4 linked regions of the Homo sapiens genome follow. The protein of the gene in region 3 interacts with the protein of the main gene of each other region in a biochemical or structural test. Each region holds a gene or a part of one and is shown on either strand. Other genes may lie near its edges. The genes, in order: PTEN, CALM1, CSNK2A1 and PML.

Evidence for each region.
Region 1: the proteins of CSNK2A1 (region 3) and PTEN form a complex in vitro, tested with the Homo sapiens proteins (3 studies listed by BioGRID, with this or other methods).
Region 2: of the proteins of CSNK2A1 (region 3) and CALM1, one has a biochemical effect on the other in vitro, tested with the Homo sapiens proteins (3 studies listed by BioGRID, with this or other methods).
Region 4: of the proteins of CSNK2A1 (region 3) and PML, one has a biochemical effect on the other in vitro, tested with the Homo sapiens proteins (2 studies listed by BioGRID and IntAct).

The regions. Positions count from the first base shown.
Region 1 is NC_000010.11:87,929,037-87,937,229, reverse strand, and holds part of PTEN (phosphatidylinositol 3,4,5-trisphosphate 3-phosphatase and dual-specificity protein phosphatase PTEN), read right to left. Parts: intron 6,185-8,193; coding exon 6,141-6,184; intron 4,218-6,140; coding exon 3,979-4,217; intron 1-3,978. UniProt on the Homo sapiens protein: Dual-specificity protein phosphatase, dephosphorylating tyrosine-, serine- and threonine-phosphorylated proteins.
Region 2 is NC_000014.9:90,400,029-90,408,221, reverse strand, and holds part of CALM1 (calmodulin-1), read right to left. Parts: intron 8,158-8,193; coding exon 8,127-8,157; intron 6,964-8,126; coding exon 6,820-6,963; intron 4,361-6,819; coding exon 4,254-4,360; intron 3,844-4,253; coding exon 3,708-3,843; intron 3,534-3,707; coding exon 3,505-3,533; 3' UTR 1-3,504. UniProt on the Homo sapiens protein: Calmodulin acts as part of a calcium signal transduction pathway by mediating the control of a large number of enzymes, ion channels, aquaporins and other proteins through calcium-binding. Calcium-binding is required for the activation of calmodulin.
Region 3 is NC_000020.11:471,444-478,429, forward strand, and holds the end of CSNK2A1 (casein kinase II subunit alpha), read right to left. Parts: 3' UTR 1,055-6,986; downstream 1-1,054. UniProt on the Homo sapiens protein: Catalytic subunit of a constitutively active serine/threonine-protein kinase complex that phosphorylates a large number of substrates containing acidic residues C-terminal to the phosphorylated serine or threonine.
Region 4 is NC_000015.10:73,997,716-74,005,908, forward strand, and holds part of PML (protein PML), read left to right. Parts: intron 1-288; coding exon 289-761; intron 762-8,193.

The sequences.
Region 1 (8,193 bases), on a different chromosome or scaffold from region 3:
TTAACTATTAGCCCATCAATCTCTTTTCACTTGGGGGATATTCCAACCTATGCAAGGATGGAGAATATACAGCTACTAGAGCAGTTCTACTGATGAAGTAAATACTATTACATTTTACCACATGATATTATAAACTTTGCATTTTATTTTCATAACACTATTCTTGCTATCTTTCATTCTGGCCCTATTTCACAACACCCTACAGGACTTACGATTTCATCAAATAGTCTCCCCTCACCTCTGAAGAGAAACAGAATTGATAGTATTACCAGACTGTAATGACTAGAATATCTTCCCATTGGCAAATTTAAAATATGTCCTTACTTTTTGATTATGGAGCCTTCTCTTGGATTTAATTTGGACTGGAAACAGAAAATAAAATACAATAAAGTTTAAATGCCCTTGGGTTTTACTTTTATCCCTGAACATGATGACATGGACTATCCCAAGTCCTTCTTAAATGGCAAGTTCTCATCATCAGCAGAGCACAGCCAACTATTCTGAAGAAGCAGATACATCAGACAGGGTATGTATGCATATGTGTGTGGGTGAGAGTGTATAAGAAGGAGGAAAGAGGGAGAAAAAGAGACCACATGTGAGAGCACAGTTAAGTTGGAAAAGCCTAGACCATTACAAAAACTATTTGTTCCAATTAAAAATCATTGATTAAATCATCCTACTAGGATATTGATTGTAATGCTAAACAAACAAAAAGTCACACAGTTGAACAGTGAAGGCAAGTATCTTAGAAAGAGTCAAATATACTTGTAGCATGAAGAAGAATAAGACTGTTGCAATACCTCTATCAAATACTTTTCTCCATTCCAAAAAAAACCCTGACATTAAAAAAACAATAATAAAGTAGGTCACAAAAAGATTGGAAGTACCACCTTTCTTCAGATATGATTTCTCAGTATAGCCGGCTACAAGTTTTCATCAAATGCAAGCATGGTGACACAATCAAGGAAACATTCCCATTTTGGAATCTTTTTGGAAGCTTCAGAAAACATTAACACTTTCAAAATGGTAAAGTTTCTTTACCAAAAAACTTCTCCTGAAGAAACCTCAGTATTCTGTAGGCAGACAGTACACCTTACTGCCAGACAACACATCTGATATTGGGGCACTGGTAAAGACAGAAGCTCTCCATGTCATGGTCACCCACTGCTCTCTTCATCAGTATGCGCTAGGGTGCAAGACTGTCATCAATCCTGAAAGAAATCTTATCTCTTGTTGTGAAAGTATTCTACTGTTTCAAGTGCCAACCCTTGAATAATTCCCTGTGTAAGATGATTTGTCATGAAAAATCCACTATTGTGAAAGCTGCCAGATTCATGAAAGCCAAGACTTTCAATCAAGAGCTTCTCGAGAGGTTTTGTCAAGAAATGGGAGCACTATGAAGTTCTTTGCTATATATAAGTTCCCTGCTTTCAGAAGACAAATTCTACAGCCTGATACTGCTGTTTACAGGATAACATACACTCTTTTTAAACAGTTTAACTCTTCAACCTTGAAAGTAAAATGTGGAGTCATAATCTTTTCTTTCCTAACACAGCATTAATGATACAGATCTTGCCAAAAATGATCTCAGTAACTTGAAGGCAAAGAAAATGATGAAACATGAATTTATCTGAAGAGCCTTGGAGAATTCTTATTTCTTGACACGTCTACTTTCATCAGGCAATAGAATCTACAGATTCCATTTACTCTTCTTTCTTTTGTAAAATAGCATTTTCAGCACTTTTTACCAAAGTCAACACTGATTGGATATCAAAGATCATATAAAAGTTGCAAAGTCAAAGTCAAAGAGCATAGTTTCAACTTGTTATTTTAAAAGTTAAATAGCAGTCTTTTCATTAAAATTTAGTATTGAACAGAACTAAAGCTTAATTTTGGTTAATTTGTACCACTTAGATTTATTCATTGCTCTCATGTAGTAGCCACTGGTTTTTGCATAAAAAAGTGACATAGTTTTCATGAAGGTTCTTTTACATTCTGTCTAAAAGAATATATTTCAATGTAATAAAAACTGCAAAATTTTATGTACACTATGCACATTTTTTGAGGGGAGAACATTTATACCTTCCATCAGACTTTAAAAGGAATGTAACACAATTTAAGACCCCCTGGCTTAAATCTAGTGTTCTGCGCCTCCACATTACAAAATTTTTCTATTTTATTACAAAAAATTTTTTACCTTTTTTTCCACTACCAAAATATATGCTGCTCATCAACTCTGTTTTAAATTTCTACCATCGCTTTTGCTACTGCATTTTTTTTTTTTTTTGAGATGGAGTCTCCCTCTATCACCAGGCTGGAGTGCAGTGGCACAGTCTCGGCTCACTGCAACCTCCACCTCCCGGGTTCAAGCGATTCTCCTGCCTCAGCATCCTGAGTAGCTGGGATTACAGGCACGCGCCACCACACCCAGCTAATTTTTGTATTTTTAGTAGAGATGAGGTTTCACCATGTTGGTTGGCCAGGATGGTCTCGATCTCTTGACCTTGTGATCCGCCCGCCTCGGCCTCCCAAAGTACTGGGATTACAGGCGTGAGCCGCTGTGCCCAGCCTGCATTTTTAATCAGTAAAAGCAATTGTTTCCCTGCAGATGATAATGGGATAAATCAAAGTAAAAATCTTTAGATCCTCAGCTCTATAATTCATGCCAGTGCTATCATTCCAAGGTGCAAACAATATGCAGAAATGTAAGGCAATCTACCATAATCTTCAACATTCACCAAAATTATGCACTAATGTAAGATTCAATTTTGTAAACTATCAACAATAAACAGTATTTCGGCATCCTTATATATAATGCAAAAAAAGTCACAAAGGATAGGAAACAAGATATAAGAGGGGGTAAAGGAACAAGGAATCTATGCAATTACACAGCTTTAAATGATTAATACGATCATTCTATTTCTGTTTTACAGCTGAATTAAGAAGAAATTAGATTAACATGAAGGAGAACTCTCTAAATGAGTTTTTCTATCTATCTGGAGGGGCTTAGGCTTTGTCCTTCTTAGAGATGGAAAAATGTACAAAATCTCTTTGCATTAAATTTTAACATGTTTTGCCATACTTACCACCCAAAGAAATATATCAACAGCAAAATTAAATCACTGTAAAAGTTCTCCCAAGAGTTTTCTTTTTTCTTTCAGATGTACTATAAGAATTAAATTTGTCACTGATTTTTCAATATAGTCCTTAGTTTTCTGATCAAAGAATCGAGAATCTTCTATTAATCTAACTACATTTATGAATATTCTTATAAAAGAATAATTTTTATGGATTATAAAAGTTCACACTTTACTAGGTAATGGTATTTTATCCAAAGGCATTCTATGCTCAAACAAGCTTCAGAAATATAAAGCTTATTTTTGATTAATATGCTTTTTAAAAATGTTATTTTAGAAGAATTTTGTGAGACCAAATCTGCAATACAGTTAATGGGTAACATGTGCTAGTATGATATGAAAATGGTAGCGTGAACAGAAAAATGAAATCAATCAGTCATTTCTCATATAGAAATTGAGGCAGCAACTGATTTAAAAATTTAGAAGAAATAAGGATTAGCAACTATCTTTAAAACCTGTTTTCCAGGGACTGAGGGTGGGGAGGGAGGAACACAAGATGAACAAGATCTGAAGCTCTACTGGACAGCATAGTGACTATAGTTAATAATAACATTGTATAATTGAAAATTGTAGCTTGTAGATCTTAAATGCTTTCACCCTGGGGGGAGAATAATAATTATGTGAGGTGATGAATATGTTAAGTAGTTTGACTGTAGTAATCATTTCACAATGTATATACACATACATCAAAACATCATATTATACATTGTATTTATATATAATTTTTACTTGTCAATTACACCTCAATAAAACTGAAGGAAAAAAAGAAACCCAAAATCTGTTTTCCAATAAATTCTCAGATCCAGGAAGAGGAAAGGAAAAACATCAAAAAATAACTTACCTTTTTGTCTCTGGTCCTTACTTCCCCATAGAAATCTAGGGCCTCTTGTGCCTTTAAAAATTTGCCCCGATGTAATAAATATGCACATATCATTACACCAGTTCGTCCCTTTCCAGCTTTACAGTGAATTGCTGCAACATGATTGTCATCTTCACTTAGCCATTGGTCAAGATCTTCACAAAAGGGTTTGATAAGTTCTAGCTGTGGTGGGTTATGGTCTTCAAAAGGATATTGTGCAACTGTGGTAAAAAGATAACCTCAGAATAAGAAAAAAAAACTCTTGAATTTTTAATTAACAAGTAGGTAACTTTAGAAATGTTGCATACAAACTTAACAGGTATTTAAAAGAAACACTGGATTCCAGAGAAAAATAATGTATTGCTTAACTTTCTAATTGTTAAATAGAAAATAGTCTCTTGATAAGTCTTAAATATAATCATTAAGGAAGCCAGGTATTATTTTCCCCCATTTTATTCAGGAGGATATATTCTGGGAATTTACGCTATACGGACTGGTAGCATAGGTCACATATTAGAGGTAGAGCTAAACCCAAAATGAACTGTCACATGGACATTTCGTCAGGACTCTCAATGCAAAAGGAATAATACTATTTATAGTATTTATTTCATCATCACAAAACATATTCCAAAGACAGAATAGATTACTAATAGGATAAACTATGCAAAGAACTACATATTACATTTCATAAAATAAAAATGCTAAGTGTGTTATTTAAAGGTGGTCTTGCAAATGTTAGTGTTGTATACACATGTAATCATTAGGGAAGCCAAGTATTATTTTCCTCCATTTTCTGCAGGAGAATACATTCTGGGAATCTATGCTCAATGGACTGCAGCATAGGTCACATACCAGAGATATGTGAAGGCATACACCAAAGAAATTACTCACAAAATGTATATAATTGTTATCAAAGTTTCAGGTCTTCTCACATGAATTGTAAGAGTCCAAGACTTCTCTGTTCACTATAGTCAGAGTTGAGGTTTTTAAAAAAACTTGTTTAGAAACAGGACTATAGATATATCACTATTAATTGCTCTTAATAGTTTCTACCTTAGTTCCACTCTATTAAGATCCTTAAAAACCCTGGCTGATATTCAATGTACTAACCTGTGTCATCTAAATATGTGAGAAGTATGTCTTATATCTCCAATCAGGTGACTCATAATATGGTACAGGATATAATCAATTATCCTTTGGTGTGACAGGAGAGATCTTCTGGTAGACAATGACTATCATTATAAGGAGTCAGCAGGACAGCTTTCACTTAGTCATCTGCCTAACTTCATTTTCCCAGTGGTACACAAAAACCTCCAGGAAAATCTGTTAAATATCTGTTTAAAGCAAGATAAACCTCAACTAAAGCCTGCTTTGCTTAGTAAGCAACAGCCTAAATCCACCAAAAACAAAAACAAAAAAAACCCGTTCTTAGTAAACCTATACTAAATCTCAATCATTAGTGATTTAGAATTTTCAAACCATTTGTCTGAAAGTCCATTCTAGATTTTCAGGAGGGATCAATGGCAAATACATCAATAGTAGCTCATGGCACCCACTTTCTTTTTGACTATCACAGCAGCATCTGCCAAGCTTCTCAACTCTTCAGTTTTCTCATGGTTTAAAGTGTTAAGCCATGAGAACTGAGTTGTATTTCACAAATAAAAGTGAAAGTTTTTGTGGGCTCTGAGAATTAACTTATGTCTGAAGTAGAAACTCATTTAAAGCAGTTCCCTCCTCTCATCCATCAGACTCCTCTTATCAACATTTGTTATATCCTTTCCTACCTTTTATGTCATTCCTCAACACAGAAGAGTTAAGTAGTTCTGCTTTCTCCCTGTGATTGCTTACTATTAGACCAACTGCCTCAAATAGTAGGTAAACCCTCTCCTTATACTATTTTTAGTCTAGGAATTTTCCTAATTCTTAGTCTATGCTGCACTTTAGTCTTCCTGACAATATTAATAGCTTTATGCAATACTTTTTCCTAAAACACAACAGTAAAATTAAAATTTTTGAAATTTTTAAAGATAATTCTTAAATATGTATCTCACTCGATAATCTGGATGACTCATTATTGTTATGACAGTAAGATACAGTCTATCGGGTTTAAGTTATACAACATAGTACAGTACATTCATACCTACCTCTGCAATTAAATTTGGCGGTGTCATAATGTCTTTCAGCACAACTAAAAGAAAAGTTTAAAAGTGATATAAAGTTATCTTTTGCACTTAGGAAGAAAAAAAAGTACTAATACTAACAAACATTGCCTGAATCTTTATAATGTGACACATATTATGCTGTGTTTAACATTAATTATTTCATGTAATAACAAGAATTCTATTAAGTAGATACTGTTATCACCCCCATATTATAATAATAAAACCAAAGCTTAAAAGATTAAGTGTATGCAATTAGAGCTAATACATTTGCTTAAAAACTTGTGATGCCACTAATACAGAGTACTGTAAATTCAGGTGCTTCCATGCTTTCAAATTTCCTCTATGAAAAATCTGCATGCTATTGGAATATATTTTTAATTTTACAAGTACCTATAAACAACTGACTAGTTTCAATAGTATCTGTATCTCATAGTTAAGCATACATAATTCTCAAACTATTCTTCAAAAAGATATATGTTAAAAATAGTAAAAGCATAAGGACAGTAAAGAAAAACTGAATGTTGTTAATCTACTTGGCCAAATGCTTACTAATTTTTTTTTAAACCAGACCTTACTCCCTGTTGAAAAGCCAACGATCACCTTTTTCAACAGTCTCTCAGATTGCAAGTTTTAATTACAGTATGAGAGTAATGAAAGAATAAGTAAAATCAATACAGAATAGTAAAATGCTGACTTGTCATTACTAGAGTATGCTAATATTTGTCTTAATAGCAGTGATATGTTAGTATGTACTGGCTTTCTAATGATTAACAGGCCATGTTTACAAACAATAAAAGGCTCAGAAAGAGATCTTACATATCAGTGTGGTTAGCAGTACCCTGGTAACTCCAACTACTATGCAAAACAAATTTTTTAAAAATTACTTAAAATAAACTCTTAGCATTTTAAAACAAATAAAGGTCCATAGCTCCTTAACCTGCAATTTCAATATCCCAAAAGTTCAAAACATCTAAAATTTTCTCTTAAGTTTTATGGCAAACTCAACTACAGCAAATCCTGATCTGAAGTAATAAGATTGTACATAATATTTAATACACTTAGAGCGAAGAGTAAAACATTTCATTTCAGGTACTGACCCACACCCCACTGGGGTGTTTATGTAAAAGTATATTTATCTGTGCTACCTTTTGAAAACTAAAATTTCTGAAAATGGAAACATACTTGGCCCCAAGAGTTTCAAATAAGTGATTGTGAACCTGTATTGTACATTTAGAAACCCTGAAAAACATCTATATAGTTTCTTCTCTACCTTAAAGGTAATTCAAAACCAAATTCACATGAAGGTTTAACTAATTATAAATAAACTACAATCCATTGGTTTCTAACTGGTCAGACCTAAAATAAAACAACTTTCATACTACCACTCAAAACAAAACAAGCTTTTCCTTTTTAGTACAATTTAGTATATTGAGTTTTTCTAGAAAGAAAATGCATTTAGTAATGACATATGCACATATATGCATCCTTGCTAGTAATTTCATACCCACTGACATGAAAAACAGGAAAAAGAGGACTGACAAGACAGTCACATTTTACACTTTCTTTGGTACTTTTAAGATAAAAGGGGAGAAATTGTCAATAGTGAAGAATTCATAATGGAATATTTTATAAGGAATCAGAGATGTAGGACTAGGAAACACAATCTAAGAAGCTGGTCTCAGGACAACACAACAGAAAATAAACATTAGTTTTGTGCAGCTTCAGTTCTCTAAACTTCCCCTACTTTCTCAGGATCCCAGAACATGTGGTTTGACGAACACTCCTTAAGACTGCTTTAATAAAAATGCCTCTCAAATATTACTGTTAAGAGGACTATATGGACGGAAAGTGGAAGTAATGACTACTAAGTGTCAACCAGATGAACACACCTTACAAAGAGTTTCCACTTTTTTTTGTTTCATCCTCACAATCACGTGATAACTGTTATTATCTCCATTTTATATATGAGAAAGCTAAGACTTAAGAGCATTAAAAAACTTGCCCCAAATAACAGTATACAAATGAAAGAGCCAGA
Region 2 (8,193 bases), on a different chromosome or scaffold from region 3:
TTATAAATAAAACGTATTTACAATTTCCATAGAGTTGGTCCCCCATCAGAGAGGTGGTTAAATCTCCAAACAGTTTATCTCAAGATTTACAGAAACGTCCAAGTACATCTCCTTTTCAAATAGCCATGGTGAAGGGCAACTTCAGTAACAAAAGAACTACCACCATCTTTGCTACAGAAGTGTTTAATAAACATCATAATAGATTTGGAGAAAGAACACACACTCCACCCATGCCACTACCTTCTTACTCCAAGGGATACAGACAGCAAAGAATTTCTGTCTCCTACAGGACAACTTCAGGGGATTAAAAAAACAGTAACTGCCAGCTGGAGGGATAGATTAAGACACATTAGTGGAAATCTAGTCACTGCCAAAGGAGAAATATATTTAGGATATACAATAAATAATTCAAATGCTTAAAATAATTGAATGAACGGAAGAGTAGACTTGACCAAATTTACATTCGTTGTTCAGGAAGAGATTCCCAGTATGCTGAGGGGTTCGTGGTAAGCTATTCCTCTGACGAGACACAGCAGCGCTGGGCCTACTGCACAGCCGTTCATTACAATATTGTTACAAGTACAATCAGACATGCATTTATAAAGAGAATATAAAAATATGTACAATAGCTCATTTTCAATGTGTGTAAGTTGCCGAAAGACACCAATGAAAGTGTGCAAAAATTCATTTGTCAAAAAATCAGAAAAAGCCTTCCTTGGCAACAGTGCATCAAAAGCCCATCTGAAATATCGAGATCCATTTGCCTCGCTCAACACCTACCCCAAACAGATGGAGAACAAAACTATGAAAGGGTTTGCCAAGTACTCAGCAGTTTCTTATGGCAAGTCTCAGGCTAAAGCAGGATGCCAGTTCAACTAATCACTTTATATATAAATATATGTATATATTTATAGAGTAGTTAGAAGTAGGGGCAAGAGTTTACAGGAAGGTCCTAACCAACTTCAAGGGCACTGCCAGGACACCCAGCTATTTCCTCTCACAAACTCATGCAGACTAACACCCAACGCCTGGGCTGGTCATCCCCCCAAATACCAGGGCGGAAGGCTACAGTGGATTCTGCCTCACCTCTGCTCAAAACTGGAACTCAGCATTCCCTGGAGGGGGAGGGTGTAGGGTTTCTGGTTCCCAGACAGGATCCTGGCCATACAAGAATCCTGTTTCAAAGGTAGTCTTTTAGGATACGCTGCAGGACCACTAAGAGTCCACCCAGCTTCTAAAGACTTGAGGGTTAGAAGGCTACATTTCGAAAAAACAAGTCAAATATCCCCCTCCAGCCCCCTTTGAAACTACCGAGAGGTCATCGACCACAGGCCTGAGACTGGGTCAGCAATCAGGCTCTTTGACCACCCCCTGCCACAAGAAATATCCAGGACATTAACTTACTCAAACCAGGAACCCTATCTCACCAGAAGAGAAACCCCAAGGTAACCTTAGGCATTCCTTTCAGATTCAGGTAATTACAAAAGCCAACCCTTAGCTCATAGTGTCAACATCTCCTCTACCAACCACCCAGCCCAAGGACCAGTAGCAGAAGCACATGGGCGATGTCTCCCCTCCACTGCTCTGACCCACCCCTCTGGCAGAAAATCTAACAAGCTACAAAATGCCAGAAAGACAGGGAGTAGGAGAAGGAGAAGCCAAGGGTCTCTATAAATCAGCCCTGAATGCACCCATTTGGCTGCCAAGAGCTTCTCACTGCCTTGCTAGCAGCCTGCCACTGTTCCCTGGCAAATTGAAACCACCCACGCAAACACTCAAAACCCCAATCTCCTTGCTAATAAGATACAACCAGTTAACACCGTGAAAAATGCACATCTCCAGCCTTCATTTCAAAAAAGAGCTCTGTACTAAATGCAATATGCTTTTAAAGGGGGTTTTACAGGGACCAATCTCAATGCAAAGACCAGTACCAGATGTCTGAGTTTTGGTTACAGGTTTATAATTAGACACAAAATTCACTCCACACTGGAGTTTTACTTTCAAGCTGGAAGCTAGCATTAGTTCTACTTGGGGGGAAAAAAGCAAAGTCAAGTCAACTTGGGAAAAAAAAAAAAAGGAGGAGGAGGCTAAGTATAATCATAAATTAAAAGTCGCGAATCAAAGGTGACTGGTAGTGTCTTTTAGGCATGAAGAGACTGGCTTACAAAAGTGACTACTGCTTCTACCACACACAGCGAAGATTGAATTACAGACACACTAAATCATGTCTCTTGCAGATGGTCTCAAGTAGTTACATAAGACAGGTAATCAGCAGCACAATTGAGAACAACCCCTAAATACATGCTTGAGAGAAAGTGGGTTTTTTTTTTTCCTTAAGAGCTCTACTGCCTGAATAGATCATTAAAAGTTACCATAATTCACCTTCCCCCCTCCCCCCAGTGAAAATGCAACTAGACCTACATGTCCATAAATAGGATGAAGCAATCGGTATCTGCTTGTTTTCAGGCAAGGTCTTGGGCTCAGAGGTTGGTGCTGGGGCCTTGGGAGGGAAACCCAATGCTGGGCTGTGGGCATTTACATGTACACTGGCCTCCCCTCCACCTGCCTTGTCCCCATTTAGATCTCAGCTTTACAAAGCATTTAACACCACTTTAAGTTAATGGTCTTTTTATTGGAAAAAAAAAAAAAAAGACTAGCATTTACAACTTGGAATGGACGTAAACTGTAATTTCTTTGAACAGCAATGTTGATGGTTGTGCTGAAGTCCACAGCCACAGCCTACTCTGCCGGCTCCAAGTCATGGTTCAGAAGGTTTTAAAAACAGAGAGTCCAAAGATGCTCCCTTGGTAAATGTTTCTTATTAAAAATTTGTGTGAACAGTGACAGCCTGACACCTGTTTCACTCTAGAACAATGCAGACAACGCTAAACCAACATACACGGGCATGCCACCAGGGTGTGTCATCGTCACCATGGGTCGGAGCACACGAAGTACAAGAGGACCATCCTACCAGTGGGGCCACGTCTCAACGGTTTATCCTTCACCCATTTTTCTGCACGTCATCCTGAGGTAAACCAATTTTAAATGTGTTTGTTTTCAGTAAACCAGCTATGACAATTTATACTAAACAAATTGAACTAGAACCCATTTGAATAGGTTTTGAATTTGTTTTTTCATTTTTCATTTTTAATACAAAGGCCTGACTGTGCTCAATCGTCAAGCTGCATGCATGAAAAACTGGCCAGCCCAAACAGTGTATTAATCATTAGCAAATGGAACTTTAAGGAGTCCTTATCATTAAGGTAGTACAAGTATTTATATTGTAAAACTGATGTGTAGCTTGATCTTTAGGGGACAGGACCACCAACCAATACATGCAGATTTTGTGTGTGTGGACAGAAGGTACTTTTGACATTCAGTTTTGCTATATAGAAACAGAATGAATAAATGAACTTTTTTCTTTTTTCTTTTTTTTGCAAGAGGTAAGTAAAAGATTCAATTTGATTCTTCTAGAGGGGGGAAAAAGGAGTTGAAAGTAGGTCTTCATTTTGCAGTCATCATCTGTACGAATTCTGAAAAGACAAATATAATAGTAACTTTTGGTTATCTTTGAAAACAGCTTTAATGAACACAACATCTTTACTGTACATAAAATAAAGTCAAAGGCTGTCTAGTGAAGCAGTTGGCTTGCTTACAGATCTAAAGGTAAGACTATGAAACACTGAGCTCAGAGAATTTAGTTTTACCTTCATAGTTGACTTGTCCGTCTCCATCAATATCTGCTTCTCTGATCATTTCATCTACTTCTTCATCTGTTAGTTTTTCTCCTAAGTTTGTCATGACGTGACGTAGTTCTGCTGCACTGATATAACCATTGCCATCCTGTGAACATTCAGCAATTGTTATTGCTAATGATGTAGTGTGGGGAAGTAGGTCTTTGACTTAGCTATGCCCTCTCAAGTTACTGCTAACTCTGCTGCCATAAACAATTCTCTGATCTCTAGTTCCCACCTCTAACCTACTAAATACATGCAAACAGCTAATGCAGAAAACAGGATTTGCAAAAGCTCACAACAATTCAAAGTAACAGTCAAGAAACATGGTCCAAAATTCCTATTTATTATGCCTACCCTCCCCTGATACGGTTACCATAAGGAGGATTTTTGAAAGTGAGATCAGAGGCTCAGGCAGTTAGATTTAAGTCTTCTGTCTATAACATTATTATAGCTTTTAGAAGTGAAAGCGGAAGAAGCCATACTTAAGTACCATCTGCTATGTAGATGCTGGATTACCTTGTCAAAGACTCGGAATGCCTCACGGATTTCTTCTTCACTATCTGTATCTTTCATTTTTCTAGCCATCATAGTCAAAAATTCGGGGAAGTCAATGGTGCCATTACCTCGAATTAAAAAACAAAAAGCTCATGTAAAGTAAGCACTCCATTAACGCTGCTCTGCAGTAATCATTTCAGAACCACTGTACGGAACGGTAAACATGTACTAGGACAAAGGGGCAGACTATCTTACTAGGTTCAATCATCTGCAGGTCTAAAACGTTCAAACACTTCACAGGGCAATTTCACATAATTTCAAACTCATCATCAGTGCCCAGGATAGTATTTAATTATACAAAGGAAACTGCACATCTGGATTCAAGCCCATGGAAGGGTCATGAAGGGCTGTACAGTTCAAGAGAAAAATAGCATACACCACTCCGCAGGCTGAATCTTTCCACTCCGAGGGAAGAAAGCGCCCCCGACTGCCATCCCTGAGTTAGGGAAATCACTCAGGTCTCACTCTGCCTTGGTTAGTGACAGCAGTAACACAAAAAAGGCCTAGAACTGAGCTGCAGGTTAAGTGTATAAAGTGTTTCAGAGGAGAAAAGATTATGAGAGAGGAACATTGATTCTGTTATGCCATGCATGGGCCATGAAGTCTTACCAAGTCTTCTCCAGGATCATTTCTTGGCCACGCTATGATGGTTAGCCACCTGTTTTCTTCCAACTCAGTATCTTTATTTCCCATTAAGGGAAAAGCTCAGGAGCATTCTCACAGCTCAGACTAGTAACACTTAGGGAACTGTCAGAACAATCTGTTCTACGGCCAGTACTCCAAACAACTCCTCTTTAAAACTAAGAGATGAATACCCCCAAAGACAAGCACTCCAGACTAACAGTGTCATTGAACTAAATGGAAATAAAATTAGAAAGAAAAACCCTTAGGTTAAGTTACTCATTTTCACCAGTACCTTTCAAAGAAAATACCTCAGGGATCCCTTCAAGACTTTTTTAGCCTCAAAAATTTTAAGATATTGTTCATATTCATCAAAAACAAAAGAAATTATTTTAAGCTATCTCACAGCCATGCAGAGAAGGTCAGGTACCATCCTGTTTTCTCAGTGCAAACACAGGATTCTGTAGCCTGGCACAACTTCTCCTTCTTCCACACAATCCAAGAGCCTAACAGACTTCTCCCCTCCCCAGGCACAGATTCCCGGGGCTCCCACAAACAAGAGGAAGTTACTCCACGTTCCTGGGTAGCTGATCATCTTAGCAAACTAGAGAACTATGGACAACCTTTTCTTTCCAAAACACTATTAGTGAAAACCACTCTAACGTGCTGAAGGCTTTGTCAAAGAACCTAATCAAAAGCTCTGCTGCCAAATGTTTGTGACCAGACAAGCGATTTTACTACACCACCCTCGAGTCAATCATCTAGAAAGTAAAATCTAGATCCGAATTGTTTATTCTTAATGCTTCTTTTATTTTTTCTTTTATCCTTTTCTCCTCCCAACTCATCTTTTAAAAATCATGTTCTATACTGTCATACAGTACATTAGAATATATATAGGATTTACCAAAATACGTGGTTTTTTTTTAGGGGTGGGGAAGTGTGCTTCAAAGCCTGCTTACTGATGGAAATCAGCAATCAAAGTTCTGTTGTCCGCTGCTGTAGAGTCGAGAGGAACAGATGACAGACCGCTATCAGGGTTACTGCTGGTTCCCTCTGGCCCTGCACCTTACAGCTTCCCTTTCCGTTAGGTTCTGCAAATCTATCCCCTGGAGTCACCACACATCCGCCTCCAAACCTCACATGCTCCTCTGCAGCAAACACATCTACAGCTCACACTGTACTCACTTTTATGGTAACTTCTAAGAGTGCTCGTCACCTACTTCATCTGGGGGTTCCTCCTCCTCTTTAAACACAGTAAGTTTGTTAAAAAGCACTTTCTATGGCTATTTAATTTCACCTCCCCCCTCAAGACTCAGTGCAGACTCATGGGCCAGTTGATAAAAGCTTTGAGCTCGGCCAGGAGCAGTGGTTCACGCCTGTAATCCCAGCACTTTGGGAGGCCGGGGAGGGCGGATCACGAGGTCAGGAGTTTGAGACCAGCCTGGCCAACATGGTGAAACCCCATCTCTACTAAAGATACAAAACACTAACTGGGCGTGGCGACACACGCCTGTAATTCCAGCTACTCAGAAGGCTGACGCAGGAGAATCGCTGGAACCCAAGAGGCAGAGGTTGCAGTGAGCCGAGATCGCGCCAGTGCCACTCCAGCCTGGGCGACAGGGCGAGACTCCGTCTCCAAAAAAAAAAAAAAAAATAGATTTGAGCTCTAGGTCGCACCAAGCAGGAAGAAAACAATAGTGATCCCATGCAGAAAACATTCTAGACACTAAGCAGGATGGACGCAAGGCCCATCATCTTCTATTTTAATTGTCAATGGCCCTGGGGCAACCACAGAAAGGATCTTTGCACATTTGCTTTGCTCTGGGGACCTGAAAGACAATCCTGTAACATGTCTGAACTTGAATTACACAACAATGGCCCTCATTCATGGTTTTAAAGCTCTTACCATCAGCATCCACTTCATTGATCATATCCTGCAATTCAGCTTCTGTTGGGTTCTGACCCAGTGACCTCATGACAGTTCCAAGTTCCTTTGTTGTGATGGTGCCATCGCCATCTTTATCAAATAGGGAGAAGGCTTCCTTGAATTCTGAAAACAAAAGTTGACCCGTTAGAATCAATGTCTTTATCCAACCCAGTCACAATACACACTTGCCGGGGGCTTGCCAAAGCCAGCCATTCAAGTTGTGCAACGTATCAGAAGTCTGGTCTTTATCTACTGAAATAATGACCACAATAGTCCTGTTGGACTGGCCTTCATACAGCAGCCCATAAAGCAAACACTGCTCCCAATAAACAGTGCCACACACCACAATATTCCCAAAGGTTTCAAGGCGGCTAAGCTGGAACATGCTTAAATTAGTCCTAAATCCAATCTTTTTTTTTTTTTTTAAACAATGGAGTCTCGCTCTGTCACCGAGATTGGAGTGCAGTGGTGCAATCTCAGCTCACTACAACCCCTGCCTCCCAGGTTCAAGGGACTAAATCCAATCTGACAAGATTGGTCCATGTGCCCCCTTCAAATCCCTTCCTGTTACATTTCTAAAGCCATAAGAATCCCTTGTTTCATAACAAATAAAATGGTTACTAGAAATGTACATTCCCAGGTAAACTCTCTCCACATGACTTTTAGAATATTTCAGAAGCATTCCTGGTTTCCTAACGAGAAACAGTCTCAAAACAAGTCCTCCAGGAATATTAAAAAGCTAAAATCTGCCAGACGTGGTGGCACATGCCTGTAGTCCCAGCTACTCAGGAGGCTGAGGCAGGAGGATTGCTTGAGCCCAGGAGTTAGAGACCAGCCTGGGCAACAGAGTTTAACTAATGTAACTTTCTTCCCAATTACTACAGTGGTCCTAACACTCATATTCACCCATTTCCATTTATTTTAGGATAGCGAGCACAAGCTTTCGTGGCAGATTACTGAAAGACCCATGGCATAAGAATTGTAAACTAAACCGCTGAGTAGCAGGCTCAGTACAATTAATCATACGCAAACTTTGCACATTGTGAAACATGGTCAAATTCTCCAGAGTTTAACATGTGGGCATCCTTAGTTTTACTTCCTTTCACCTCATCTATAAAGTACTGGCAAGAATAACATCTGACCTCAGTGTTTCTGCTTACTGTTCTTATTTAAATAAATTCTTAGAAAACTGCCCAGACTGTAGCGGGGAGGAACAGAGGAGTCACCAAAACTGAGTCAGTGCCTAGTTCTGGCCTTCTGGGGACTCCTTGGAGTTGTCAACTTACCAGCAATCTGTTCTTCGGTCAGCTGATCAGCCTATATGAAGAAAGAAAAGGTTATCATTCAGTCCAC
Region 3 (6,986 bases):
AGGTTTGCTGTTCACACAATTTATCAAATTCTGCCCTCCAGAGGAGGTACTGACTGGCCTTTAAAGTTGTTTTAGCTAGCACTGACCAGTCCCATGGGGTGATATGGAAGTTGTCTGCTATGGTTTCAATTATTCCTTTTGTAAATGGGCTAGTGGCTCCGTTTAATGCTTTTTCTTACCACTTTATAAGCGTCAAAAGAAGTTGTCTGCTATGGCTTCAATTATTCCTTTCATAAATGGGCTAGCAGCTCCATTTTCTTTAACGTTTTTTTCTTATCTCTTTATAAGCGTCAAAAGAAATGGGTTCATATACCTGATCGCCTTGTCGATCTTGCATTACTGGGCAGGCTAAGAGCTCCCCTTCTGATGCCGCTTGGCTAAGACAGGGTCCCAAAGCTGTAGTGTATCCCTTGTCTTTTTCCAATTTATTGGAGGAGGGGGCTCAGGCAAAACCTCTGTTTCCTCTTTGTTATTTTTGCCTGTTAATGGCTGGGCTGAGGGAGAAGGAGGAGACGGTAGGGTAGGTGACGGTTCCATCTCCCTTACTTTTTTAGGCTTTTCTGTGTAGAGTGGGACCAAAGCAGTCCTAACTAAAGCCCATAACGTTAAAGATGTTACTGAGACCCATTGCCCTTGCTCATGATGTTAAAATTTCTTCCCAGAGCTCTACGTCTAGTGTACCTTCTTCCGAGAGCCATGGGTTATGGGAAACAACAGTTTGCATTAGGTCCCATAATTGAGCCTGTCTGAGGCTCTGCTAACTTTCAGCATTTGTTTTACTACTTTTATATACTGTTGCTGTTGAGCTGACAACTGTTGTCCCATGATGACAACTGTCATCCCATGATGATCGTCCCTAGCTTGAGCAATTCCTTTGAACTTGGAAATGCTGAACAGGCACCAATGACTTACTGACTGCGCAGTCTCTTCACCTTCATTTTCGAGGGTTCCGTCGTGATCTGTTGCAGCATTCCTCACACAGGGAATCACCTGCCGAGTCTGTCCCACAGACTTTGGCCGAGTGACAGATGAAAGGAGTACTCAGACACAGATATTCAGTGAGAGAGCAGGCTAGGGGACTGCCAGCACTAGGGGCCGAAGAGAGTTAGCAGTCCCCTTAAGCTGGTGGCCCTCACATTTATTTAGCACAAATTTAATGACAAAGGCTTGGAGCAAACACAATTTGTGGGCAATAAACATTGTCAACATCCCAAGTAGACAGCAGTCCTGTGTGTGAATGATCAAAGGTTGGTTTCTGGACACAGGAATAAACAAATTTATCTAGGTAAGTTCCTATACAACTCCCCTGTTATCTGCCCTTTGCTCTCAGGCTTCAGATAAGAATTTGGCTGCCTTCAGCCATAATTTCTTTCTGAAGCTTTTGCAAAACCTCTCGGCCTTCCAAGAAGGTTTGTGTCTTTCCTATAATTTCTCCCACCACCCTGACCAATCTCCTACAAAGGCTGAAGCAGGAGGATTGCTTGAGCCCAGGAGTTTGAGGCTGCAGTGAGCTGCGATCACACCACTGCACTTCAGCCTGGGCAACAGAGCAAGACCTTGTCTCTAAAAAGTAAATAAAAAAAAGAGTTGGGCTAGGTTTGAGGTTTATTGTTGCTATGGTTACCCCCAATGCAGCAGCTTCCAGTTCCTCCAATGACACCTTGGACTGAGGGTGCAGGCTGGCCTGCCAGAGGGATTTTCTCCTTCCATGTGTGCTCCCTGCTCAGCTTTAGGTCCTCCCTTTGTGACCCTCAGAAAGGGTCTTCTTCCCATACTCTTGTCTCTCTCCTGTAACATTTTTACTTCTAACTCAAGGCTTGTCAGCTTACCATTGGCAGGTGGGGGAGGAGGGAATTCTCTGTTCTGATCAAGTCTCAGTCTCTGTCAGGCCCTTTGTGTCTCTGATTTTGGGGTTATGTCCTCCTTAGTGCTCCTGTTCCTCCCCCAGTTCTGGGCCCAGTGTGTATTCCTGCCCCTGCCCAGGGAAAGTTTTGTTTTGTTCCTGTTTCATTCCCCCAGATGCAAGGGAGCTTCATCCAAGGGGGTGACAGGATTTGGTGTCCTTCCCTCCACAGACTAAGGCTTTTGTCCGGTAGGGGATACAGGGAAGGGTCTGGGTGGAGCACTGTGATCCTTTCACAGTAGCTGCCATTGTCTTCTTCCAGATCTTGAGACATTTTATTAAAACTTTCTCCAATCTTCTGTGTGCTCCCAGTGGGGTTCATGGTGAAAAACGCTGAAAAGGGTAAAGACTACTGCAGTCTCCATGACCCAGTCCCTCACCAGTGTCCACTTGTGTTTACCAGGTAACCAGTGCCCATGTCATCTCTTCCATTTTGTGCCTGTCTCTCCTTAGATTTGAAGCCAGTTGATTGTCTTCTGATCTCAGCTCTCCAGAAGACCTTTTCCAGAAGACCTCTCCCTGTGTATCCACTTCTAAACCAGTCACAACTGCCCGAGTCTCACAGCAGCATGGTGGATATCCCGCTGTCCCTCAAACTGGGGCTCTGTCAACAAAGAGGAAGGGAGGAATGACTCCCTTGGGAGGAGACAACAACATTGCAAGTGATCTAGTCTTTGAAAGGCTTTTAAGCAAGGGACTGAGATAAAATTTATTTATTATTTTTAAGAGAGAGGTTCTCACTCTGTCAGCCAGGTCTCACTGAGAGCAATGTGATCATAGCTCACTGCAGCCTCCAACTCCTGGGCTCAACGTATCCTCCCACCCAGCCTCCCCAGTAGCTAGCACTATAGTCACACACCACCACACTAGTTAATGTTTTCATTTTTTGTAGAACAGAGGACTCGCTGTGTTACCCAGGCCTCAAGTGATCATCGGGCCTTGGCCTCCCAAAATGCTGGGGTTATAGATATGAGTCACTGTGCCTGGACTAGAATATTTATTTTTGAAAGATCTTTGGTTGCAGGTGTCAGATGAATCAGGAATTGAGACGAGATGGGAAGGCATCAAGACCAGTTATCTGCTATGATACTCCAAGCAAGAGAGGATGGTGGCTGGGATGAGGAATTTGGCAACGGGAATGGGAGGAAGTGGATGCATTCAAGATAAATATCCATTTATTAAAAGTAGTTGCTTTTTCACCAGAGTAATACATAAATATAGTTTTAAAAGTAAATACTGCTACTATCTTAACAATAATTTAAAAAATCTCAAAATAACATGCAACTGTTTGATTTTTCAGTTTTAGGCATTAGTTCCCCTTATAAATGATGAGAGTTTAGAGCTTAGACCGCTTGTCCTGTTACCAACACCACCACACATGCCAGCATTTCCCATCACTCCTCTTTCCATTGTCATCATACTGTAATCCTGGTTAGACCAGTATTCAGTGTTTCCATTATGACTACGTAAATTCTAATCACAGCTGAACCAGCAGTATGATATTTAGTTTTCCCTCCTTTCATAACTTTTCCCATTCCTGCTGAGTTAATACTTTTTTGGCTTGTCTTACTCTGCTCAGTTTTCATTTTGTAAACTTTTAAACATTTGAACTCTAGCAAATATACTGAGAAGTGCCCCAAACGTAAATGGAGAGTTTAACAAATAATTATAGAGCAAATACAACATTTAGGTACCACCCCAATAAACACAACACCGAGGACCCCCAGAAGCACCCTGTGTATAGTGGAATGTTGTGTTGTTTCTGGCCATGGAGTCTCAAAGACTGATTCTCAATTTTTGTTGCTTGAAAACAAGTAAACAAGTATTCTCAGCCGGGCACGGTGGCTCACGCCTATAATCTCAGCACTTTTGGAGGCCGAGGCAGGCAGATTACTTGATGTCAGGAGTTCCAGACCAGCCTGGCCAACATGGTGAAACCCTGTTGTTTTGTAAAAATACAAAAACTATCTGGGTGTGGTGGCATGTGCCTATAATCCCAACTACTTGGGAGGCTGAGGCAGGAGAATCGCTTGAACCTGGGAGGTGGAGGTTGCAGTGGGCTGAGATCATGCCACCGCACTCCAGCCTGGGTGACAGAGTTAAGACTCTGACTCAAAAAAAAAAAAAAAAAGTTGGTGTAATCCTTTCCACACACACATATATATATACATAGATGTTATATGTGGTTGCCTTCTGTTCCTACTGATATATATGAATAGTATGGCTGATTGCATTATTGGTTTGTTTCTTCATTCCCCTGTAATAAGACTAAACATACACACCCTTTGCCATATAACCTCATAAAGTTTTCCCAACACAGGCTCTATGCTTCCCTACTGCACTGATGTTGGGCTTGGCTATGTGATTTGCTTTCGCCAATGGGATGATGGTGCTTGTGACACAGCAGAGGCTTGAAATGTGCTTGTGTGATTCCATTTGGTCTCTTCTAAGTTTCTGTGATTCATGAGAAGAGCACGCCCTGAGTAGCTGCTGCAACTTCTGCCACATTGGGCAAACCTGAATCCAATTCACATGGAGGTGTCCAGCCCAGCCGACCCACAACCTGAAAAACAGCTGCTTGGGCTGAACTTGATCTAGATCAGCTGAACTACATACAGTTGCCTTAGAAATTTGTGAGACTAAGACTAGACAGAGAACAAAAGCAAAAGAAAGAAAAAATTTGTCTGCAATGACTGGCTAGGAACCTGGACAGATTCCTGGCAACATAGCTGTGCAAAAGCAGCCCCACAAGCAAAATTGAGCCAGGAGACAGGGTTCTGATCCCAGGCATGGGCCTTGGCAGCTGAAACTTGTTAGGCTGGGCCTCTCCCTCGCCAGTTCAGGCAGCCCCTCCTCTGAGGCCTCATGGACCATTCTCTCTTCTCCAAGACTTCAAGATTCCTTCCTAGTGAGTTTTTCTTTTTTACTTTTAGATGGAGTCTGGCTCTGTCACCCAGGCTGGAGTACACTGACGTGATCTCAGCTCACTGTAACCGCCACCTCCCAGGCTCAAGCAATTCTCCTGCCTCAGCCTCCCAAGTAGCTGGGACTGCAGGCACACGTCACCAAGCCCAGCTAATTTTTGTATTTTTTAGTAGAAACAGGGTGTCACCATGTTGTTCAGTCTGGTTTCAAACTCCTGACCTCAGGTGATCCACTCGCCTTGGTCTCCCAAAGTGTTGGATTACAGGCGTGAGCCACCATGCCCGGCACCTAGTGAGTTTTTCTGTTACTTTTTTTTTTGGAGGCGGGGTCTCCCTATGTTGCACAGGCTGGAGTGCAGTGGTGAAATCATGGCTCACTGCAGCCTCAACCTCCTGGGCTCAATTGATTCCTCCATCTCAGCCTCCCAAGTAGCTGGGACTACAGGCATGCACCACCATGCCCAGCTAATCTGTGTATTTTTTGTAGAGAGGGTTTCATCATGTTTCCCAGACCGGCCTTGAATTCCTGAGCTCAAGTGAGTCGCCCGCCTCCACCTCTCAAAGTGCTGAGATTACAGGTGTGAGCCACTGCACCCAGCCTGTTAAATCTTTTTTTCAATTAATAACAACTTCTTTTACAGACAGGGTCTCACTCTGTTGCTCAGTCTGGGGTGCAGTGGCACTATCATAGCTCACTGCAGCCTTGAACCCCTGGGCTCAAGTGATCCTCCTGCCTCAGCCTCCAGAGTAGCTAGCACTACAGGCATGTGCCACCACATCCAGCTAATTTTTAATTTTGGTAGAGACAGGGTCTCCCTATGTTGCCCAGGCTGGTCTCCAACTCGTGGCCTCAAGCAATCCTCCTGCCTCAGCCTCCCAAAGAGCTGAGATTACAGGCATGAGCCACCACGCCCAGCTTCTGTGACTTTAAAAAAATCTTTTTAGACAGGGTCTTGCTCTGTCACTTGGGCTTGAGTACTGTGGCACAATCACACCTCACTGCAGCCTTGACTTCTTGGGCTCAGGCAATTAATTCTCGTCCTTTGGCCTCCCCAGTAGCTAGGACACAGGCGCACACCACCACACTCAGCTAATCTATTTTTTGTAGAGGTGGGTTTTCGCCATGTTGTCCAGGCTGGTCTGGGACTCCCGGCTCCCAAAGTGTTCCAACCACAGGTGTGTGGGCCTTCCGTGGTATCTTAACCTCATCACCCAGAGGCAACAACAGCTAGTATTCTTCTAGTTTTTACCACCCCCACCACCTCAATCCTGCCCCTGTAGCCTTTCCAAGTGCCACAGCATTGTTTCAGTTTCTATCTTAGAAAGCCCGGGAGTCTGTGTCCTATCTCCCTGGGGGCATTCAAACCCTAGTCCATAGCCTGAGGCCCACCTATACCCAGACCCAGTGTCTTGGAAGCACTGACTTTAATACCCACTTAGGCTGGGCGCAGTGGCTCACGCCTGTAATCCCACCACTTTGGGAGGCTTGGGCGGGCGGATCACCTGAGGTCGGGAGTTCGAGACCAGCCTGACCAACATGGAGAAACCCCGTCTCTACTAAAAATACAAAATTAGCTGGGCGTGGTGGTGCATGTAATCCCATGCCTGTCTCAAAAACAAAACAAACAAACAAAACAAAACAAAACAAAAAAACCCCAGTTACATTCAGGATGAATTCTGCCTTCCTTTTTGCCACCTTGGGATTTCCATTTCTTTCTCTGAAATAGGCATTTGCATTTTTCCTAGGATTTTTTTTTTAAAACAGTTGGAATTATCCCATATACACAATTTTTTCACTTTTCTAATTAACATACATTTCCCCATGGGCTTGTGTCTCACCTCTCAATCCCCAGTGTATAGCAAAGACCAGGCTCAGGGGCACTTACAAATGTTTGTTGAAACCAAAGACATCCTATATTACAGAAATGAACTTTGGAAAGACCAGTCAGCGTGGGTGGGTGAGGAATGCCAGAGACGGGAGAACAAAATGAGGTATACCGTCAGGTTTGAAGGGTTGAGGGTTATGGAGGGTTCTTCATAGGAAGTTCACCATGGAGTTCTTGGAACTGTTCAACACACAGAAGCAAGGTCCTCTCCTTCTAGGTATGGCTAGAAATGTTTATCAATAGCTGAGACTCTGATTCCCAGGGTGGGATCAG
Region 4 (8,193 bases), on a different chromosome or scaffold from region 3:
CCAAACTGAGTTCCTTGAAGGCAGAATGTATCCTACACCTCTTATATCTCAGAGCCTATTACTGTGGGTGATGAGAAGTAGATGCTCAATAAATGGTGCAGTGAGAGCTGGAGGGCCTGAATAAATGGGGGTATTGGGGTGCTGATAAGCCAGGGTTTTGCATCATCCAATGACTGGCTGGAATGGAATATGAGGTCCTACTCCAGGGTCCAGCTGTAAGGGTGGTTGGCCGGTAGGTGGGGGCTTTTGGGACTTCTCCAGGCCTCACCTGCCTCTCTGGTCCCCCAGCGAGCCCCCGCTTCGGAGGAGGAGTTCCAGTTTCTGCGCTGCCAGCAATGCCAGGCGGAAGCCAAGTGCCCGAAGCTGCTGCCTTGTCTGCACACGCTGTGCTCAGGATGCCTGGAGGCGTCGGGCATGCAGTGCCCCATCTGCCAGGCGCCCTGGCCCCTAGGTGCAGACACACCCGCCCTGGATAACGTCTTTTTCGAGAGTCTGCAGCGGCGCCTGTCGGTGTACCGGCAGATTGTGGATGCGCAGGCTGTGTGCACCCGCTGCAAAGAGTCGGCCGACTTCTGGTGCTTTGAGTGCGAGCAGCTCCTCTGCGCCAAGTGCTTCGAGGCACACCAGTGGTTCCTCAAGCACGAGGCCCGGCCCCTAGCAGAGCTGCGCAACCAGTCGGTGCGTGAGTTCCTGGACGGCACCCGCAAGACCAACAACATCTTCTGCTCCAACCCCAACCACCGCACCCCTACGCTGACCAGGTGAGTAGGCCGGCACAGGGTGGGGTGGTGCATCCAAGTACCAGGTAGAGGGCGAGAGGAGCAAAGATCCAAAGAGTCACACAGCTGAGGACAAGGAGCTTCTGGGGCCTTGCAACTCTAAATGTGGTCTGCAGATATGCAGTGTCCGTGTTGATGACCACAATTTATGCTGCCAGTCCCCACGCAGGTGGATAGTAAGTTTCCAGTTTCCTCCTGTAATAAATAATGCTGCAGAATCATCTTTGCATCTTTATCCAGTAACTTCTTTAGGATAAATTTTTAGAAGTGCCACTGCTGGGTGTAGGGGGACGGGAATTCTACATTTGATACATGTTACCAAACTGCCCTTTAGAATTTAGTGGAATTTTCCGAGAGCACTGACACGGAATCTCAGTAAGGCTGGATTCTAGGATCAGAGACAAGTAGTTAGTTTCTGTCTGAAAAGTTGAAACCATTAACACCAGGCAGCGCTATCTGAGAATGTCTGTATGGGGAAAAAAAATCACATCCAGTTGTAATTATTTTTATTAAACAGATTTTAACTCAGTTTTTTAATAGGTAATACATTCGTACAGTTCACGAACAAAATTTGTAAAGAGGAGAGAGAGAGTGCAATCTTCTGTCCATGCCCAACTGCCTAATTCCCACCACTTCTCCCTCTTCCCATCCACAGGTAGCCATTGTTACTAGTTTTGAATGTTTCTTCTGAGAGTTTCTTTACGAATATATATGCAGGTAGGAGCAATCTTATCAGGTCCTATTTTCCCTCTTTTAGCCAAAAAGGTAGCATAACTATGTGAACTTTTCACCATTAGCAATAGATTGTTCATAGAAGGCGCTTCTTGGTTCTTAGAGATCCACTTGCAAAATGAAAGCATTTTTCGCTGGTTTTTGACAACTCAGAACTATATATGGCTAAACCACATATTTGCTGAACTACATATCTGCTAAACTGACTGTGATTTGTTTCCTGCTTTAGGATAAACTTCCCACACTATCAGAATAAGCTTTCCCCTCCGACTCCTCAACAGCTGGTATCACCACGTTTCTTAGCTTATTGTAAAGGTTGAGTGGCTTTCCACTTGTTTATTGGCCATTGTGTTTCTGCATTTGCGAGTGGCCTGTTTAGGTCCTTTGCCTGTTGTTGTTGTTGTTTCCGTTGAGGAATTAAGGGACTAATTAAAGAATTCAGGAACAAATTCCTCGAAAGAAAAAAATGTATGCATTTCTTTTGCTCTTACAATTTATGCAGTTTTAAAACTTACATATTTATTGGATTTTGATTGAAATTGCAATAAATTAGGAGAAATTGGCTTTATCTCTGGTTCTATCTTTTGGATTTAAAAAATTTTTTTTAATTTTTTTTTTTTTTTTTTGAGATGGAGTCTCGCTGTGTCACCCAGGCTGGAGTGCAGTGGCGCGATCTCGGCTCACTGCAACCTCCACCTCCCGGGTTCACGCCATTTTCCTGCCTCAGCCTCCCAAGTAGCTGCGATTACAGGTGCACATCATCATGCCTGGCTAATTTTTTGGCATTTTTAGTAGAGACAGGGTTTCACTATAATGGTCAGGCTGGTCTCCTGACCTCAGGTGATCCACCTGCCTCGGCCTCCCAAAGTTCTGGGATTACAGGCATGAGCCACCATGCCCAGCCTTATACTAATTTCTTAATGAATTTGTAAGCTTTCATGTTTTGAACGTGATAATGCAGCCATCCCACGGGATCCATGGGAGTCTGTTTCAAATTCATAGATGCTCAAGTCTCTGATATAAAATGGCATAGTATTTGTATATAACCTCTACACATCCTCCTGTATACTTTATTTTTTATTTTATTTTTATTTTTTGAGACGGGGTCTTGCTCTGTCGCCCAGGCTGGAGTGCAGTGCTGCACTCGTGGCTCACTGCAGCCTCAATCTCTTGGGTTCAAACAATCCTCCCACCTCAGCCACCAGATTATACAGGACTGCAGGTGTGCACCACCACACTCAGCTAATTTTTAAATTTTTTGTAGAGACAGGGTTTCACGACATTGCCCAGACTGGTCTTGAGAACTCTTGGGCTCAGGCAGCAACCCTCCCTAGGCCTCTCAAAGTGCTGGGATTACAGGTGTGAGCCACTGTACCCATCCCCTCCTGTATACTTTAAGTCATCTCTAGATTACTTATAATGCCTAATACAATGTAAATGCTATGTAAAGAGTTGTTTTACTATATTTTTGAATTTGTATATTTTTTTATTGTGGTACTTTTTTAATTGATTTTTTTTCGCCTGAATATTTTTGATCCAAGATTTGTTGAATCCACGGGTGCGTAACCTGCAGATACTGAGGGCCAACTGTACATATAAATTGTTTAGCGTAGTGCCTGGCACATATTAAATACTCAGTGAATGTTAAAATTCTATTATAATTTCTCTGCTCTAGAACAATTTGAAGAATATAAGAAATTTAGGCTTATAAAAGTTTTTTGAAAAACCATCTTGGAACTGGTGCCTTTTTTATAGTAGATTTTTGGGAACTTTTCCCATTTTTGCCATGGCATTAATCTGTTTTGGCTCTTGTGTCAGATTTTTGGAAGATTTTCCAGTTCATCCTGAGTTATCTTTCATTATTTAAAAATCTCCTATATGCCTGTAACTATACCCCCTTTTTTTATTTCTGATGTTGTATATTTGTGGTTTAGCAGTCTTTTCAAAGTACTGTACTTTTAGTCTTTCCTTAGATTGCTTACTGATTTTAATGTTTTCCTTCTTTCTGTTTGATCATTTTATTTTTGTCATTTTCTTCCTTCTAACTTTTGTCATTATTCATTTTCTAGCTTCTTGAACTTATAATTCATTTATTTGCAATCTTTATTGTTTAATAATAATAACTTTTTTTTTTTTGAGAATCTCCCTCTGTCACCCAGGCTGGAGTGCAGTGGTAGATCTTGGCTCACTGCAACCTGTGCCTCCTGGGTTCAAGTGATTCTCCTGCCTCAGCCTCCCCAGTAGCTGAGACTACAGGTGCCCACCACCATGCCTGGCTAATTTTTTTTATTTTTAGTAGAGACGGGGTTTCCCCATGTTGACCAGGCTGGTCTCGAACTCCTGGCCTCAAGTGATCCACCCGCCTCAGTCTCCCAAAGTTCTGGGATTACAGGCGTGAGCTACAATGCCCTGCCTAATAATAACTCTTTTAAGGCATAAGTTCTCTGTATATGGTTTTGGCTGTATGCCATAACTTTGATAACTTCATTAGTGTTCTCATAGTCAATCATTTCTCAAATTTCATTTCAGTCTTTTCTTAAAAAGGTTCTCTTGCTTAAGGTCAAGAGTTCGAGATCAGCCTGGGCAACATAGCAAGACCTCATCTTTACAAAAAATAAAAAAAATTAGCCAGGCATGGTCGGTGGTACATGCTTGTAGTCCCAGTTATTTGGGAGGTTGAGGCAGGAGGGTTGCTTGAACCTAAGAATTTGAGCCTGCAGTGAGCTGTGATGGTGCCACTTCACTCCAACCAGAGCATCAGAACCGGACCCTGACTCGAAAAAAAAAAAAAAGAAATTTTTTTCTCTTGAAAAGTTTTAGAGAATAGTGTTTTCTAAAATTTTCAAGTGGTTTTGATGTTTGGTTTCTTGTTCTGTCACCCAGGCTGGAATGTGATGGTGCGATTTCATACTTGTTAATTTCTGCACTATGGCCAGTTTATACAGTTTGTATGAGTTCTACATCTAAGACTATATTGAGATTTTCTTAGCGGCCTAGGATATTCCTTGGACTCACATATTCCTAGCAATAATCCTTAGAGTTGAAAAGTTGTATTTGTTGTACACACATATATATACATACACAAATATATGTATATAATATATATGTGTATATATGCATATATCTATATGTATATATCCATATATATGTAAGTTCTAGTGCTTGTGTGTGTGTGTGTATCTCCACGCTATTGAAACTTTCTACCTTTCTTTCTTTTCTTTTTTTTTTTTTTTTTTTGATGGAGTCTTGCTCTGTCATCCAGGTTGGAGTGCAGTGGCATGATCTCGGCTCACTGCAACCTCCTCCTCCCGGGTTCAAGTGTTTCTCCTGCCTCAGCCTCCTGAGTAGCTGGGATTACAGGCGTGTGCCACCATGCCCGGCTAAGTTTTTTTTTTTTTTTTGTATTTTTAGTAGAGAAGGGGTTTCATTATGTTGGCCAGGATGGTCTTGATCTCCTGACCTTGTGATCCACCCGCCTCAGCCTCCCAAAGTGCTGGGATTACAGGCGTGAGCCAACATGTCTGGCCGAAACTTTCTACCTTTCCTTCCATTCTGTTTCACCAGTTCTCTAAATGATAATTACAGAGTGGTAACTTCCCCATCAAAACATATATATAGGCCAGATGTGGTGGCTTCCACCTGTAATCCCAACACTTTGGGAGGCCAAGGCCGGTGGATATTTTGAGCCCAGGAGTTTGAGGCCAGCCTGGGCAATATGGTGAAACCCCGTCTCTACAAAAAAATACAAAATTAGCTGGACATGGTGGCACATGCCTCTCGTCCCAGCTATTCGGGAGGTGGAGGTATTCCTCAGAGAGGATCACCTGAGCCTGTCCGTTCAAGGATGCAGTGAGCCATGATCACGCCACTGCACTCCAGCCTGGGTGACACAATGAGACTCTGTCTTAAAAAAAGAAAAAAAGTGGGCCAGGCGCAGTGGCTCACGCTTGTAATCCCAGCACTTTGGGAGGCTGAGGCAGGCGGATCATGAGGTCAGGAGTTCAATACCAGCCTCACCAACATGGTGAAACCTCGTCTCTATTAAAAATACAAAAATTAGCCGGGCGTGGTGGCGGGCGCCTGTAATCCCAGCTACTCGGGAGGCTGAGGTAGGAGAATTGCTTGAAACTGGAAGGCGGAGGTTGCAGTGAGCTGAGATTGTGCCACTGCACTCCAGCCTGGGCAACAAGAGTGAAACTCCATCTCAGAAAAAAAAAGTGTATACACACACCAACACACACATACATGCACACTCTAGAACCTATCTCATCTATCACCACAAAGAGTAGAATATAACTATTCTTCCAGAGAAAATAAAACATTTAGCACACTTTTATAGTTTTTCTTCTTCCCTCTTCCTTCTCACTTTCAGATTTAGTTGAAATAATGTGAACTTTTAGTTCCAGATTACTACCAAATTGTTAATTTTTTTTTCTTTTGTAAACATCCTTTCTGAACAGGTATTAAGCTTCATGGTCATATTACAACGCACTTGTTAGCCATACCTTATACTTTAATTGGTTTCATTGCTCATGATAAGTTTTCCTATAGCTTTTCTTCTCCTTTCTTGAATTATTTAAGGTGATTAATTTTCCATTTGGCAGGAATACTCCATCAAGTAATTAAAAAAATTATTCCAGAGTTTACTTTCTGAGACCTTAAGTGTCTTTACTTGTATGTCCTTCTTTTGCTGTCACATGTGAGGGAAAGTTGAGCTAGGTGTAAAATTCTGAGGTCATAATCACAGTGCTTTCACCTCAGAATATATAAACCTTGCTTCATAAATTTCTAGTCTCTGGTGTTGTAGATGAGAAGTCCACTAATGGTCTATTTTTTCTCTGTGAGTAATCTGTTTTTGTTTGTTAAGGATCTTTATTTATTTTTATTTATTTTACTTTTTAGAGATGGGGTCTCACTCTGTCACCCAGGTTGGAATGCAGTGGTGCAATCAGAGTTCACTGCAGCCTCAAACTCCTGGGCTCAAGCAATCCTCCCACCTTGACCTCCCAAGTAGCCAGGACTACAGGCACCTGCCACCGTGCCTGGCTAATAAATATAGTTGGATGGTTTTCATTTGTTTATTTGTTTGTTTAGAGATAAGTTCTTGCTCTGTTGCCCAGGCTGGTGTGCAGTGGTGTGATCATAGCTCACTGTAACCTCGAACTCCTAGACTCAAGAGGTCTGCTAGCCTTAGTCTCTGAGTAGCTAGGACTATAGGTGCCTGCCACCATGCCTGGCTAATTTTTAAAATTTTATGTAGAGATAGGGTCTCACTATATTGCCCAGGCTGGTCTAAACTCCTGGCTTCAAGTGATCCTCCTGCCTTAGCCGCCCAAAGCACTGGGATTACAGGCTTGAGCCCATGCCCAGCCTGCTAAAGATCTTTATATAATTTTTTCTTTTTTCAATAATCTTCTATCGCCATTGTTGATCTGAAAAACTCAAGTCTTTCTTCAGCTCTTCATCTCAGGGAAATTGTATTCTGCTTTTTAATTTTTTTTTTTTTTTTGAGATAGAGTATTGCTCTTGGAATATAGTGGCATGATCTTGGCTCATTGCAACCTTTGCCTCCCAGGCTCAAGCAGTTCTCATGCCTCAGCCTCCCAAGTAGCTGGAACTACAGGAATGCGCCACTACACCTGGCTAATTTTTGCATTTTCTTTTTAGTAGACACAAGGTTTTGCCATATTGGCCAGGCTGGTCTTGAATTCCTGGCCTCAAGTGATCTGCCCGCCTTGGCCTCCCAAAGTGCTGGGATTATAGGCGTGAGCCACTGTGCCTGGCCATACTTTTTAATATACTGATAGCCCTTCATTTGTTTATTTTATTTTTTATTTTTATTTTTTGAGACAGGGTCTCACTCTCACCCAGGCTGGAGTGCAATGGCACGATCTCGGCTCACTGCAACCTCCACCTCCTGGGTTCAAGTGATTTTCCTGCCTCAGCCTCCCGAGTAGCTGGGACTACAGGTGCGCACCACCATGCCCAGCTAATTTTTGTATTATTAGTAGAGACGGCGTTTCACCATATTGGCCAGGCTGGTCTCGAACTCCTGACCTCGTGATCCACCCGCCTCAGCCTCCCAAAGTGCTGGGATTACAGGTGTGAGCCACTGCACCCGGCCCATTTGTTTATTTTTAAAATTTTTACTACTGTTGTTATATGGATATTGGAACTCCAAGAACATATTTTACATCTTTTAAATTTTTTCCCCATTAATTCTGTTGCTTTGCTTTTTTCCCCGAGATTCTCAGAGAGCTCCTCGAATTGTTTTTCTAACTCGCCAGCTCATCTTTTCGCCGCTGACTCCATTCTTCTATCTGCTACCCCTGTAGAGTTGTTGTGGGTTTTTTTCCCCCCAGCAATCTTTTTTTTTTTAATTGCCAAAAGAGCTTAATGCTCTCAGGATGCTTTTTCTTGGCAGCCTGCTCTTGTTTTCTCATTGTAGTGTGTTCTTAAGTCTCCCTGAAAAACACAGTTGGCATTTACAGAGGTGTATGTTTCCTACACGATCCCCTTTTCAATGGGTACTTGCTCAGTTTGGCTGCTGATTCTCTTCATAGGTCCTGCGGTCTGTGCTATCTGCTCCCATGTAAAAGTTGACATCTAGATTGTTCAGTGTTTGTAGCTAGCGTGGGCTGGCAGCAATTGTGTAAAGCACAATTTATACCCCACATTCAAT